2 separate regions of the Homo sapiens genome follow, and region 2 is linked to region 1. A link means that fine-mapping ties the variant in region 1 to the expression of a gene that starts in the linked region. Tissue or cell type: thyroid. Region 1 holds a variant in brackets; the other region holds the start of a gene. All regions are shown on one strand. Distances are between the middles of the regions.

Evidence for each region. PIP is the estimated chance that this variant, and not a neighbour inherited with it, causes the effect.
Region 2: it holds the start of MYEF2, and the variant in region 1 is fine-mapped to the expression of MYEF2 in thyroid (GTEx, PIP above 0.99). The same link has a PIP of 0.9 or more in skeletal muscle.

What each region holds. Positions count from the first base shown.
Region 1 is chr15:47,934,950-47,943,059 of GRCh38, forward strand. The region is part of intron 1 of LOC124900354 (a long non-coding RNA gene); the gene reads left to right. Among named protein-coding and RNA genes, the nearest start is that of LINC01491, 93 kb to the left of the region's middle. The variant A/G (reference allele first, on the strand shown) is at 3,871.
Region 2 is chr15:48,173,402-48,181,500 of GRCh38, forward strand. MYEF2 (myelin expression factor 2) reads right to left here and starts at 4,894. Exons shown (of 17, transcript NM_016132.5): 1 at 4,676-4,894. The coding sequence starts at 4,836. It also overlaps a transcript of CTXN2 not described here. RefSeq lists silencers at 4,236-4,405, 4,436-4,865, 5,036-5,135 and an enhancer at 4,838-5,489.

The sequences.
Region 1 (8,110 bases):
CTGGTTGATCATAAAATATGAGTGTTGAGAGAAGTTGGAATGTAAGATACCTGTGAGGTTTCTGGCTTGGGCAGTGATTAGAGTGGCATGTCCATGGACTGAGACGGGTTTGGTGAAAATGCACACGGGAACTGATGAGTTCAATGGAGATCAGTTGATTGCAGGTGTCTAGGAGATGGGCAGATGAATTGGGTTCAAACTGGAAGAGAGGGCTAAGAGTGTACATACCAGTTGGAGACTTATGAGTACATTGCTGAGAGATACATGAAGGGAATAGAAAAGATCAGCTAGGAGGGCCTTTCAGCCTTACGTTAGGCAGTGTCTTATATTTTAAAATTACTTCTCTCCATCTCTTCTATGAATTAAAACTCAATCCTGCCCCGCCACACTCTTAAGAAGAAAGCAGATGCTATGTTGGAGCTAACTAAAGGAAAAATGACTGATTGCTAGGTTGGAGGATTAGTTTCCTGAAGAGTATTTGCTTTTGAAGTAAGGTCCAAAATCTCAAGGATGAGAGTGAAAAAGCTGCAAAAAGAATAATACAATGTACATACTACTTGAACACTACCACCATATAATTTTATAACACTCTTGGAAGGCAGGTGGAACTGATATTATTAGTTTTATTACATAGACAAGCAATCTAAGGCTTAGATTAATTTAATGACTTCTCTGAATTTACATATGACAGAGTTAGAATTGAACTGGTTTCTTAAATTCCAATCCAATGGGTTTAACTAGTTTCCCTTACACTAGTCTGCTTTCACAAACAATAAGTGGAAAGGTGAGTATTACTGATTGCTGTTGGGAGTTAAAAAGTGTCTTCCTTCCTTACTGTGGAGGGGGAAGAGGAAGGTCAGTGGAAGGTTTATGATGGCAAAAATGCCCAGGAAGTAACATTTTGGTAGTAAATCTCCAGATTTGCTTTGTTGTAGGATTTCAAAGATGAATGAATGCTTGTTTGCCCAAAGGTCTGCATCTCGACGGCTGGGCCGTGACAACTGTGGGGCTTCTCAGGTCACAACACCAAGGTGCCCACTCCCTCAAAGATTTGCCCTGTCTTTTAATTCTCAATTGAATTGTGATATATCTATGCATATTTCCAACCAAAATCACTCAAACTTCAAAGTTAAAATGAAAGGCTAGCACTTTTAGAGTTATGCATGTTGTAAATATTCCATGGTTTTCAGCCCCAGAGTAAGAAATATAATAGTTTTTCATTCTAATGCCCTATTATTTACCTGACCTGACTGGAAAAAGAGAAAGAGAAAGACCTTGACCTTTTGCCATTTTCTTAAAGCGTATTTTATAGTCTGCATAATAAGGCAGTGGCTGTTTCAGTGATATTTTGTCCTGAAATCGATGTTAGAGATCGCCTCACGAGTGATTTGTAATGGAATTTTTATTTGATTTGCATTTTTACATTTACAATGCAATTTTCTCTGACACGTTATTTTTCTTGTAAGTTGCACTAAAACACGATATAAATAAGTAGATTACATTGCTAAATAAAGGACAGGAAAAACATTAAAAAACTAGAATCAAATAATTAAACTTTTTTAAAGGACTGGGTCAATATATATATTTTATTATGTTTGGAAACTGAAAAAGTTAAACAGATATGAAATACTCATAATTTTGAAATGATTTTGCAAATTGGGAAGCTATAGTAATAGAATAAGTTATTTAAAAATGTGTATCAGTTTCACCATAACTTCACTGGCATTTATTCATTCAACAGATATTTATTAAGCACTTACTAAGTTTCTATCACTGATCTTGGTGCCCAGGATAAAGCATTCAATCACACAAAATAGTTTCTCCCTCATGGAACTTTTATAACCTGGTAGGGTAGAGTGAGTGTGTGTAAGTGTGTGTGTGTGTGTATGTGTGTGTGAGTGTGTGTGTGTGTACACACATATGTATGTGGAGATACTCATATATGGGCACATATACATATGTAAACATACACATTTACATCTATAGTTTACTAACTTACTAGTTTAATGGGGAGATTGCATCATTGCAGCTTCAGCTGACATTTGATTTCTAGTGAGCCTGGGCATTCTTTCATTATTTCTGTCAGTTCTACTTCTAGAAACATTTGCTGTTCATATCTGCTTCTTACTTTAGGCTTACTGATTTTCTTATCAGTTTGAATGATATATTTACATAATCATGCCACATTTACTGATAATGTTTTCCAGCCTTATATATTTATGTGAAACATCTGTCTATATGAATGTACACAAGTTATTATGTAATCAGTTTATCAATCTTTTCCTTTCTGATCTGTGTTCTCACTTCCAAACTTAGAAAGTCTCACCCAGCACCTCTTCATCCTCTCCTTCCACTAACCTGGGTCCAACAAAGGAACAGGAAGAGAAAAGATACAATTTTTTAAAACCCTATCTTTATGTAAACTAACTTACATGTATGTGCAATTTACCATATATTGTTTCATAGGTAAACATTGGATCGTAATTTTCTTGCTATCTTATAACCTGGGACTTTTATCTTTCTTAAAATAACAACATTTTCCCATGTTAATAGATACATATCTAGTTCTGTTTGCTAATTTTTGTACCCTCCAATTAACAAATATTTATATTTGTTTTTGAGGTTTTTTCACCATTATGACTATTGTTGAGATGGACATATTTGCTTACATATTTTTTCTCATATTCTTCCCTTAGGATATATTTCTATAAATACATATTTCTATAAATAGAATTTTGGAGTCAATTTTTTTTTTAAATACATATCGCCAAATAAAGTGGCATTATTAGAGGACAGCCAGGTTTCAGTTGGGGCTGGAAGTGAAAGGAATCTTCTGTGAGAACATTGGGAATGAGAGAGAAGAAAGGAAGGAAGAAAGGACGAGATGGAGGAAGGGAGGCAGGGAAGGAGGGAGCAAGGAAGGAAGCAAGGAAGGAAGAAAGAAAGGAGGAAGGAAAGAAGTGAGGGAGGGAGGGGAGGAAAAAAGGAGGGAAAGAGGGAGGAAGGAAGGAAGAAAAGAAAAAAGGAAGGAAGGAAAGAAGGAAAGAAGTGAGAGAGGGAAGAAGTGAAGGAGGGAGGGAAGGAAGAAAGGAGGGAAAGAAGAAGGGAGGAAAGAAGGAGGGAAGAAGGAAGGGAGGAACAGAGGAAGGGAGGGAGGAAGGAAAGAAACAAAGAAAGAAAAGTAAGAAAGAAAGGAAAAGAAAGAGAGAAAGAGAAAAAACAAAGGAAGAAGGAAAAGAAAGAAAAGTAAGGAAAGAAAGAAAGAGAGAAAGAGAAAAAAAGTAAGACGGAAAAGAAAGAAAGAAAGGAAGGAAGGAAGAAAGAAAGAGAAAAGAAAAGAAAAGAGCCAAAGTCACAGAGTGCCTAAGTTAGCTAGTATACTAATGGTGGGGAAAATGGGATGGAGGTGGGTTAAGGACAATAAGGGAATGATAATATGAAAGTTATTAGGTGGGGTGGGGAAGGGAATGAAGAATGAAAAGGAAGTGGCCACCGAGCTCATCTGTGAAGCAGGATGAAAACCTACCTCAGTGGTATCCAAGAAGAAAAGTCGAATTCAGGAAGCCAGGAAGGAGAAAAAACACTTTAAGAAACATAGAGTAATCAACTGTGGCAAACGAGATTGAGAGATTGTGTAATTCGAGTGCTGGAAATTGACCATTGGATTTAGCAAGATGTAAGTTGCCAGTGGTCTTGACAGAATCAATTTAGCATTGTGTTGGGACTGAAAGTCTGAAGAGGTAAGAGGAGGTAAGAACGAGTTGACAGTGAGTTAGACCAAATTTACTGGGGAGCTTTGCTTTAAAAGAGGGCATTTCTAATAATAGGGTGAGAGATGGAGAAAGACAAGATCTAGGCAACATTTTTAAG[A/G]TAGGAGATTCTGGGATTTGAGAGAATCCAGTAAAAAACATTATCTTTATATATGACCAAATTCTGAATCTACTGAGAGATAGGAAACAGGCAGTCAAAGATCAAAATATTACTTTCATTACTGACAAAAGTGTTGGTAGGTGGATTTAAGTCTATTAGCTAAAATACAATTAATAATATTGTACCGAGAATTAAGCAGACTTATCTGCCCAGTTCCTGGCAGCTCTGAACAATTGTGGGCCTTCCTCATGGGGGTCTACCCTTTTAAAACATAATTTTAAGGAAAGAAATAGAATGTGGGCTTTCTCCAGGCAGGGGGAGCCCAAGGAGGAAAGTGAAAGGAAGAAAGATCTGAGCTCAACTCCTCCATTTACCAATCACAACATTTATTTTTCCTGCCCTGGGAGAATGAATGAGGAATTCTTCCCTAAAAACGGATATTCTACCATGTCTTCTCATTGATGGAAATGACCAAATAGAAAGGGAGAAACTGATGATGCAGGAGTGAAGGGGAGAATTTCAAGACCAGAGTCCTTGAGTAGTTTACAGGAGATGAGATCCAGTACCCAAGCATTTGATAGGAACTAGGAAAGATTATCCCACTTACCAGGAATGAAGGCAGAAGATAGGGGTACAGATATATTTAGACTGACAAATTTTGTGTTGAAAGATACATTTTCTCTTCTGATTGTTCTTATTCTTCAGTGAAATAGGAAGTGAGATCATCTGCTCTGAGTGAGAAGGGGAGAACAGGTTTGAAGAGACAGAAGGTGTGAAATAATCTTCCCAAAGAGTGGAAAAGCAAATTGCCTAGAGAGACAAAGAAAATTGGTTGGGCAGTGCTGAGGGTTTGTTTGAGTTTTGTGGTTTAAAATTTCAAGTGAGTCCATGCAGCATAATAGTAGATTTTTTTTTTCTGGCCATGCTCTGCTCAGATGCAAGGAGAGGGGATGTGGAGAGTTTTAATTAACCAAGTTTGTGCTCTTGCAAAATGAATCCTATGGAAAGAAAAGGGGAAAGGTTGTTTAGGTTGTATGCGAGGGACTGATGGACCATAGAATTTAGTCTAGTTTGAAAAGATGGAAATGAGAAGAGAGGTTTGATGTAAAGGAAAGAGATGAATGGGCAACAAACTGATGGTCTCTGTGGGTCAAAGGGCTTTTGCGGTTTGAGTACTGGAATAAATATGTTAGAAAATTAAGAGTGATTGTCAAAGATTGGAATGCCTGAAATTGATATTTGGAAAAGTTAAAGGTAATAATGAGGTTCAGAGTTTAATTATGAGAGTGAGTGGAGTGAATGGCTGAGGTCGATTGGTTGAAAACATCAAAGTAAAAAGATCTGAGAGGAAAGTTGTTGAATGGAAGATCTAGATAATTGTTGAAGTAATCAAGAATGATTACTGGATAGTCTGCAGGCTGAGGTGGGAGGACAGCTTGAGGCCAAAAGTTGGAAGTTGGAGTGAGCTATGATTGTACCATGACAGAGAGAGACCCTATGTCAAAAGAAAAGGAAAGAGAAAAGAGAGAGAGAGAGAGAAGGAAGGAAGGAAGGAGAAGAAAGAGAAAAGAAAGAAAGAAAGAAAGAAAGAAAGAAAGAAAGAAAGAAAGAAAGAAAGAAAGAAAGAAAGGAAGGAGAGGAAAGAGAGGAAAGAAAGGAAAGAAAGAGAGAGAGAGATTAAGGAATACTGACAGAGATATACCATTAACTGAGTGCTAAAATCTTCAATAAGTTGTATGACTGAAAGGCCAGAAAATGATTGCAAGATGGAATAGTAGAAGGTAGTTTAGTCTAATGACATATGCCTCAAAAGATTTTTGAAATAAAAAAGAAAAGAAAAGACCTAGAAAAACAATGATGAATAAGAAGGGCTCCAATCACCATCTCTTTAGTTTATGATGTGGGCATTGTGTGGGGAAAAGCAGATACCCCTAAGAGGGCTTCAAGGAAAGTAGTGTCCTCCTTTTAGGAGACAATTAGGTTTTAGATAAATCATAAAATAAAGGAATGAGTGTTCAAAGGAGAGACTGAGGATGCGAGAGATTATTCCAAAGAAAGGACAGGCTAGGCATGGTGGCTCATGCCTGTAATACCAGCACTTTGGGAGACCAAGGCGGGTGGATCACCTGAGGTCAGGAGTTCGAGACCAGCTTGGCCAACATGATGAAACCCTGTCTCTACTAAAAATACAAAAATTAGCCAGGTATGGTGGCTGGTGCCTGTAATCCCAGCTACTCGGGAGGCTGAGGCAGGAGAATAACTTGAACCTGGGAGGCGGAGGTTGCAGTGAGCCAAGATCGCACCATTGCACTCTAGCCTGGGTGACAAGAGCAAAACTCCATCTCAAAAACAAAAAAGAAAGAAAGAAAGAGAAAGAGAGAAAGGAAAGGAAGGAAAGGAAGGAAAGAAAGGAAAGAAGGGAAGAATGGAAGAAGGAAAGGAAGGAAGGAAGGGAGAAAGAAAGAGAGAGAGAGAGAAAAAGGTGGAAGGATTTAGATGATTAGAGAATATAGATCTTTATATATGGAGATATTTCCGCATGTTCTTTGATGATGTGGGTTCTCAAATTTGTGAAAGAGATATACTTTTGGTACTAAGGTATATGAGGCATGATGGCATTTATTCCTGATGATTTCTTAGAGAAAAGAGAGACATCTCTTTCATTTACAACCATTTTTGATTACAATAGAGGAGAAGTGGGCAGCGTCTAATAGTGAATGGTGATCTTACCACAGTCTTATAGAAATCTGGGAAGTTCCTCAAATTCAGCTGTGGGTAGTATTACAGTACATTGAGCTACCCAGTTTACTCATCTCTTTCCAGAATTTTCTTTGACATTCTGGTCCGTTTAGTCTATTGGATACAATGTAATACTACGTTGCAAGGTTTCCCAAAACACGTTGTTGATCTTGACTAATTCTTATGATTGATTTGGAGCATAGTAGAAAAATATTGGAATCTTCCTCTTAATTCCACTAAAAGGTAAATTCTCCCCCTCTTCTGAATTTCCCATAAGCCTTTACCTAAATCTCTCATATAACATTTTTATTGTAATTATTTTTATGAGTATCATATATCTATGACTTACACAACTTTCTATTACACTACAATGCCCAACACTGTACCTTACACGTAGAGGGTCTTTAATAAGTATATGTGGAATGAATGAATTTTAAAAGCAATGAACAAGATGGAAGTCAGACTGTATTCTCAAATTATTCTGCTTCTCACTATGTATGTGACCTTGAGCAAGATATTCAGCTTCTCTTATTTACATCTGTAGGGTGGGAATAATAACTATCCTGTTTATCTCACAGGCTGCTGAAGTTGTGAGAAGTGTGAGAGCTAGAGGCAACATTTGCAAATGCTTTGAACACTGATTGCAAATAAGCTAACTCAACACTCAAATACAAAAAAAAATTATCATCTATTACAAGACAATTTGATAACTTGGAGGAAGCCCTCCATTACATATACAACAATTATTTTTGGCTTAGACATATCTGGAAAGAAAATGTCTAGATAGGACTCATATGATAATTAGAGTCTCTCATTCTGCCATCCATAGAACAGAAGTACGGCTGAAGGCAGCAGCTATGAACTGACTAGCCTCGACTCCAAATTCAACAAAAATTTTCTATGGCTTCATATCATAACCAAAATCCCAGCATTTTTAATTTATTCCTTGGAACTAAACATTGTCTTTATTCTTTGAGTTCTAGTTCAAACAAAATAGAGGAATGGTACAAATCCCAGCTTTGTGATTAGCTGGGCCTATGACTTTCACAAAGCTTCCTAATTTGTACAATAGGTACAATATTATCATCTTCCCTTTAAAGTTATCATGAGGACAAAATAAGATAATGTAATGATACCTGTCTCATGCCAGTCCCTCAATAAATGTTAGAGATTCTTTATCACAAAGTCTCTAATAACAGCGAAGATGGTAGATGAAATGGAAAACAAAGTTATCACACAAAGAACCAAAAATTTGAAAGACAGCTTAGAAAGAGGTTAATAAAATAACCAAACCTATGGGAAAATCAGTCAAGAGAAAAATCAAGGAAGAACACACAGAAAATGCTAGAAATGAAAAAGCGCTCTAACTGCAGATATAGCATAGATTAAAATTTAATAAGGGAGTATAGTTAGTACTTAATGGCAGTAAAAAATTATGTTACCAAGTTTATAAGAATAGATATTAATACATTTCTAGAAAAAAATTATAAATTTCCAGGTT
Region 2 (8,099 bases), 240 kb after region 1:
AAAATTTGAAGGTTTTACCTCTAAGAGCAGGAAAAAGAGAAGATGCCCATGCTCACCACTTCTATTCAACATTGTACTGAAGGTCACAGCCAGAGCAATTAGGCAAATAAAAGACATAAAAGGCAACCAAATTGGAGAGAAAGAAGTAAAATTAACTCTGTTTGCAGAAGATGTGATCTTATATAGAAAATTATTCAGAGAAAATTTTAAAGACAACACCAAAAAAACTATTAGAACAAATTCAGTAAAGTTATAGAATACAAAGTCAACATTCAAAAATCCACTGCATATCTACACACTAATAATAATGAACTATCCAAAAAATTAAGAACATAATCTCATTTAAAATAGCATCAGAAAGAATAAAATACCTAGAAATAAATTTAACCAAGAAAGCTAAAGAGCTATACACTGAAAAACGATCAAACAATGATAAAAGAAATTGAAAATAATACAAATGAAAGATATTCCATGTTCACAGATGAGAGGAATTAATATTGTCAAAATGTCCTTCCTACCCAAAATGACCTATAAATTCAATGTGATCTCTATCAAAATTCTAACAGCATTTTTCACAGAAACGGAAAAATTCCTGAAATCCGTATGAACCATAAAAGATCTCAAATGGCTAAAGCAAGCTTAAACAAGAAGAAAAAACTAAAAGTACCACACTACCTGATTCAAGTTATATTACAAATCTATAGTAATCAAAACAATATGGTACTGGTACAAAAACAGACACACAGACCAATGGAGCATAACAAACACTCAAAAACACATCCCCAATATATGGTAAACTAATCCTTGACAAAGGCACCAAAAATATACAATGGTGAAAGGACAGTCTCTTCAAAAAATGGTATTGGGAAAACTAGATATCCACATACAAAACAAAATGAAAATGGATTAAAAACTTATAACACCTAAAACCATGGAACTCCTAGAAGAAAACACAAGAGAAAAGCTCCATGACCTTGGCCTTGGCAATGATTTTTTTTTTTTTTGATATGACACCAAAAGCACAGACAACACAAACAAAAGTAAACAACTGGGACTACATCAAAGTAAAAAGTTATTGCACAGCAAAGGAAACTCAACAAAATAAAAAGGCAACCTAAGAAATGAGAGATAAAATTTGCAAACCATATATCCAATAAGGGATTAATATCAAAAATGTATAAGGAACCCATACAACTCAATAGCAACCCAATTTAAAAAATGAGAAAAGGATCCAAACAGATAATTTTTCCAAAGAAGACATACCAACGGCCAAAAGGTATATGAAAAGGTGCTCAATATCACTGTTCATCAGGGAAATACAACTCAAAACCAGACTGCAATATCACTTCATACCTGTTAGGATGACTTATCGAAAAGTCAAAAGATAGCAACTGTTGCTGAGGACGTGGAGAAAGAACCTTTAGATACTGCTGGTGGGAATATACATTGGTACAGCCATTATGGAAAACAGCATCAAGGGTCCACAAAAAATTAAAAACAGAACTACCACATGATTCATCAATGCCACTTCTGGGTATATATCCAATGAAAATGAAATCACTATCTCAAGGAGATATCTGCACTCCCATGTTCGCTGCATCATCCACAATACCCAAGATATGGAAACAACGACTTAAGTGTCCATTGACAGATAAATGATTAAAGGAAACATGATATATATTATATTTTATGTTTACACAACACATCCACACTGGAATATTATTATTCAGCCTTACAAAAAGAACAAAATCTTGCCATTTGCAACAACAGAGATAAACCTAGAGGACATTGGGCTATGTGAAAAAAGCCAGACTCAGAAAGACAAATGCTACATGATCTCACTTACACACAGACTTTTAAAAAAGTCAAACTCAGAAGCAGAGAGTAGAAGGGTGTTTACCAGAGGTGGAGGGCAGCAGGGGATGGGGAAATGTTCTAAGGGCACAAACTTTCAGTTATAAGATGAGTAAGTTCTGTAGATCTAAGGTACAGTATAGTGACTATACTTAACATATTTACTGTATACTTGAAATTTGCTTAAAGAATAGATCTTAAGTATTTTCAACACCAAAAAATATGGTAGCTATGCGAGGTAACAGATACGTTAATTAGCGTGATTGTGGTAATCATTTCACAATTTATTTGTATACCAAACCATCACACTGTACACTTCAAAATATACAATTTTTGTCAATTTACCTCAATAAAGCTGGGGGAAACAGTTCTAGTCTTTATTCCTAATAAAAATCACTCAGCTAAAGAACACATTACCTTGCTCCAATGCTTAATATTTTATAGTACCCTAATATAACTCTCAATCTCTACCTACTCCAAAGTTATACTTAATTACACATGAATAATAAAGTTATAATAATACTGCTCTTTTCCCTCCTATTCATTTTTAAGAAAAGGAGAGCTAGTATACCATTTGGCGTTAAAGAAGAAGACTACAGTTGGAAAACGGATCTTTTCTAAAGGTGTGAATATGCAAACTAAATTCCCTGTATATGAGTTTCATAAGCATGAAAGTTCACTTCTGCATTTCTTCCACAAATATTTACTAGGCCTTAAGAATACAAAGAAGAATAAGACATAGTGGTCTCCCACCCTCAATAACTATGGATTAACCTCAGCAAATATTATTTCAATCCTGATGACAAGCAGTACTCTGTTCAATTCCAACCAATACATAATTTGGGGCAATATTATGGTAATTTTTATAATCAACAATGAATTATTTTTATTATTAAAAGTATATGGTAATCAACTCAAGGTTTATGTATTGGGGTTGTTATCCACTCCTACTAGTTCACGAAGTAAAAAAAAAAAAAAAAAAAAAAAGGACTAGGTCGCTAGTTATTCAGTTTGAATGACTCATGCTGGACCATCACAAATCTTCTTATGGAATAGACAGTAAGAGAAATCCCTGAGAGTAAATTGGACTCGATTCAACTTCTGGGAAAAAGAGAAAGGGAGAGGCGAATTATAAGCAATATGGAAATAATCTGTATTTACTAGTAATATTTCTTCATTTCTTCACCTTATATTTTTCTCTTCCTAAATTAGAAAAGGATTCTTTCTCCACCTTTCTCCTTTCTCTTTTCCTGTCTTGCTAAATCATGAAGAGACTTTAGAAGGGAATAGAAAATCTGATGGAGGTTTAGATACCAAACTTCCCCTATATCAAAACTAATCATACCCAAGTATAGGAGGGCTTCTCTCTGTAATTCAAGGCTGCACTTTTTGTTCAGGAGAAAAGGTGGCATGTATACTCGTGTTTAGATATGAATAGCACATATTTTTAAGTTTATCATTCCACCGGTTTTCATTTCTATTTTTAATGCCAAATTCCAGAAAGCCCACATTTTGGCAAGCATGGTAGAAAGCACTTCATTCCCTTTCTGGTTCCTCAATTACTGAGGTGCACCACTCTTCATCCAGGAATAAACTCCACTAAGTTCCAATCTCTTATACCTGCACCTCTATTCTCCTAGAAGATGCTGCCGATCCTGTTCAAACTCATTTGAGAGCAAGAGTGTCAAAGAGCTGGGGAGAGCTACCCCATCTTTTTTGCCACCAACTTTTACACAGACTGGTCCAGTTCTTACCATACAATTTCAAACATGCTTATACAAAGGTCAGAAAGACCTTTCCCTTGTCTATTTTACTGTGAGCATATATCTATTGCTTTCTGCTCTGAGGCATAACAGAGAAGGAAAAGGATGTTTTCACTTAATTATTAACATACTTTCAACTTCAGGTTTAAGGAGGTAGGCATATGAAAGTAAGCGCTTAACTTCATATCCTCCCACAGGACAGGAACAAAGGAGAGCATAACATTTCCCTAGAACCAGAAATTATTATGGATTGGGGTCAACTAAATTCTTTATAGGCACTGGTGACAGCTGCGACCTTAAAAGTCTTCCTTCATTTGGGAAAAAAAAAATCTTAACCATCTATTATACCAAACTTAAGATAATCATACACTGAGTTAAAAAAAAAAATACTCTCCACAGCTGACGCACATTACCCAGTGGGAAGGGAAGCCACGCACATCGCACATTTCCCTTTTTAAAGTACGTCTAGCCAATTCAAGAGTAACACAAAACATAGAGTCTAACAGCACATTATTAAACTTCCTCTCGGTATAAATCAGTTTAAAAATGAACATACACTTTAGAAAACAACAAAACACTAAACTTGTGAAGCTCAGAAAGAAGCCAGGAATATTCCTTTTAAATATGTTCTCGGTGGTTAAGAGGAAATGTCCGATGATGTCATCCCTAGATACTCCCTAGTGATGAACACTAACTACTGGTCCTTAAAGGGGGACCATTTTCCTGCAAACCGTGGCGGTCGCTGAGCTTTGCTCAAAGATTCTTTAACCAAAGTCAGGGAAGAGGGGTGTTCGCTGTCTCGGGCTAGAAATCAGGGAAGAGCGCTGGTCCCCGGGCCCCCAGCCCCGGCTCCCAGACCACAGGCGGCCAGGCCTGGGGCGGGCGGGGAAGGGCCTGGGAGCGGCCCAGCTGCACCTGCTCCTCAGGAAGCCGATGGCCCGGGGGCGGGCCGGGGTCTGGGGGTGGTTGTCCCCCATCGGGGCACAGCCCGGCCTCTAGCCGCCCGGTAGACTCCCCGCCCCCCACCTCGCCCCGGTTCCCGGAGGAAAAGACAATACATTTTAACGCCATTGGAGCTGCTGCTGTGCTGCGGCTGCTGCTTCTCCGCCTCCGCGGGGTGCGGCTCTCGCCGCGGCTCGCCCGGCGGCTCTGCGGGCTGCAGGTGCGGGCTGTCGCCACCAGTGGCCCCGGGCACCTCGGCCTTGTTGGCGTCCGCCATCCCGCCGCCGCTGCCTCCGCCTCGGCCGCCTGAGCTGAGGGGCTCCGAGCGCGACAATGGCGGCTGCCGGGGAAGCGGTAACGGATCCCGATTTGAAAAGGCCCCGAGCGCTCAGTAACCCGGATCTCGCGAGAACCGGTCGAGACTGGGTGACTGGGAGATGGTGTGTGCCGGGTGCGGGGGGTGGGAGTGCGGGGGGAGGGGAGCCATGGGAGCTGGGGTCAGGGCCGCTGTTGCTGCAGTCGGCCCTACACCTGCCTGGGAGGGCTGGACCAGTCCTGAAAGCCCCCGGTGGTGGTGCCATGTCTGCCCACCAGCCCGCCTGTCGCTTGGCACCAGTGGAGTCTTCGCTTGCAAAGCGGGATTAGACATCAAAGCCCTAACACCCAGACTGTTCAATTCATTCCAGGTAGGGGCAGTTAAAGAACACACCACTTTGCATCTTTAAAGACTTCTTGCAAGTCCTCAGACTGCCTTTAGAAATCCTTTGAATTAAGCAAATATAAGTCTCTTGCCATTTCAATGCCTAGGCACCCTTCGGACATTCCATAAATAGTTATTGATGACTGATTGCAATTCACCAAAAGGAATGACTTTGAATTTCTTTGAGAATTATTTGTTCTTAGGGGGTGAGGATTTCCCAGGAACTCAACTATCAGCTTAGTAAGAGAAGACTGCAGTTTTTCTCTGGACATCAATCAATATGGGGAATCCATAATTATAAAATATCGTCTACTAGATGGGCTAATAATGGACATTTGAGGTTTTGACTGTGTGTTTATTGTATACTGATGGAAATTCTAGTGAAGTAGTTAGTTATACGCTCTCAAATTTAATTGCCATATGGAGTTTTAAAATACAGTCGTAGATTTTTCCCCCTAAGTATGAAAAGGAAACCGTTAAATTTAATCAACTCCTAATTCTCGAGTACTATAATCTTTCACATTGACATAACCTTTTTCAGCTGAAAAGTTTAAATGCCTTCCCAAATTTTTTTTCCATGAAGAAGCAAACACGTACAGTTTAGTCACTTTGCAGAATATCATACACACATCAGTGGTAAAGTTATAGTTAGAAAGTAATACTCAAATAACATAATTTCATCTTCGGCTTTTCAATGTGTAGTTTCCTACCCTCTACCGAAAAATACCAAGTTCAGCTACTTCATCACACACACACATACACACACACACATACACAAACACACACACACATAATCAGAACATTTTAATGATAAGAATGCTATTGTAGTTGCTGTATAAATTGTTTCTCATTCAACTCTGAGACATAAGATTTATAATCGCAGAAAGGGCATTCAATTGTGACAGACAAAATCTGGGTTAGAACCCCAGCTCTGCCTCTTTTTGCCCATAACTCCCTGGGCAAGTCACCTCATTTCTCAATCTCTCTACAATAAATAGGGATAGCAATACCGACCTTACAGGATTGAGGTGAGGATTAAAAGAAAGCACTTTATGTAGGAAAAAGTGCTATATGAACATAATGTAATATTACAATTCTCTATCTCCCTAAGCTCAGCAGGGTTTTAGTCAAAGACAAGCCAAGTGATTTTTCCCACAGCACTAAATTATAAGTACTTTCAAAATAGTCATCATTCTGTTATTCTTTTGCTATTGTTGAATTCAGTATGAAAATTGAACCCCACCATCACCAGTACAATATATTCTTGCAAAAATCCTTTAATCAACTCAATGCAAGATTTTTTTAAGAGGCCTTTATGCTTCAAACAGAGTAGTAGGTACATGAGGAATACAAAAATGAGTACAGCCCTGTTGGGAGAGGGCTAATGTAAAAAGTACTATTTAAGTGCTATAATACAAATAAAAGCAAAGTATAATTAAAAAATTATTTACAAAAACAGGAGACTGGCCCACATGCCTTAGTTTGCCAATTAAAATATTCCATTAAAATATTTATCTTGATTACTGAGTTTTAACTTTTGTACCCAAGACAAATGCCTCACCCGCTGTAGCTTGGTTCTAGTCCTGATAAAGAGCAGAGGTTAATTCCTACTGAGAGATTGGTGAGGGCCTTATAAAAGAGCTGGATCTTAAAAGACAAAGAATTAAGGCAACTTCTGAAGGGAAGAGAATGATTAATCTTTACCATTCCATCTGACTGCTCAATAGATTGATCTTTCCTTCCTTTCTTGCTATTAATTGCAAAAGATAAAGAAAAAACTATTAATATTCTGTTGCTGAATTCCATTTCTGTATTTGCTTGTCTTCCTCTCTACTGTTTTGGTTTGTTTTGTTTTGTTTTGTCTTTTTTGAGATGGAGTCTCGCTCTGTCACCCAGGCTGGAGTGCAGTGGCGCCATCTCTGCTCACTGCAAGCTCCACCTCCCGCGTTCATACCGTTCTCCTGCCTCAGCCTCCTGAGTAGCTGGGACTACAGGCGCCCGCCAGCAGGCCCGGCTAATTTTTTGTATTTTTAGTAGAAACAGGTTTCACCGTGTTAGCCAGGATGGTCTCCATCTCCTGACCCTGTGATCTGCCTGCCTTGGCCTCCCAAATTGCTGGGATTACAGGCGTGAGCCAGAGCGCCCGGCCTTGGTTTTTTGTTTTTTGTTTGTTTGTTTTTTAGTGCATGTAGGTACATTGAAAAATTCTTAAGTGATGCTCAAATTCTTATTTTCCCATGATTCACATTGCAAAAGCATTATCCTTTGCAATTGCACAAAATATATTACTGGTACAACTTCACATAATCACTTAGTTTTCTTTCTTACAAATTAGAATGCATGTTTATGTGTGTGTACCTGGCGGGATAGGGGAAAAGCTATTACACGTATCTAGAAATCTAATCCTAGAAATCACAAAATATTTTCAATTAATACCTTAATATATGTATCACTTAGGAATTGTGTTCATCTGCTAATAACAATAACTAGAAATAATAGTGTCTTAAGCAAGATATACATTTTTACTCTCTTAAGTAAAATAAATGCAGAAGGAGCATCCCAGAGGATATATAGTAGCTTCACAGTCATCGTGAAGTCAGGTTCCTGCTACCTTAATCTTTCGCCATCCTAGTGTGAGGCTTCCATTCTTAAGGTTGCCCTATGACCCAAGATGGCTGCTGGAGATCGAGGCACCTTGTCGGCATTGTAGGTCAGAAGGAGTCCAGAAAAAAAGGGACCTATCCAGAAGTCTCACACAACACTTCCGCTTATGGGCAAGAACTTAGTCACATGACACACTCATCTGTGGGGGAGGTTGGCAAATAATTTGGGGGCTGGGC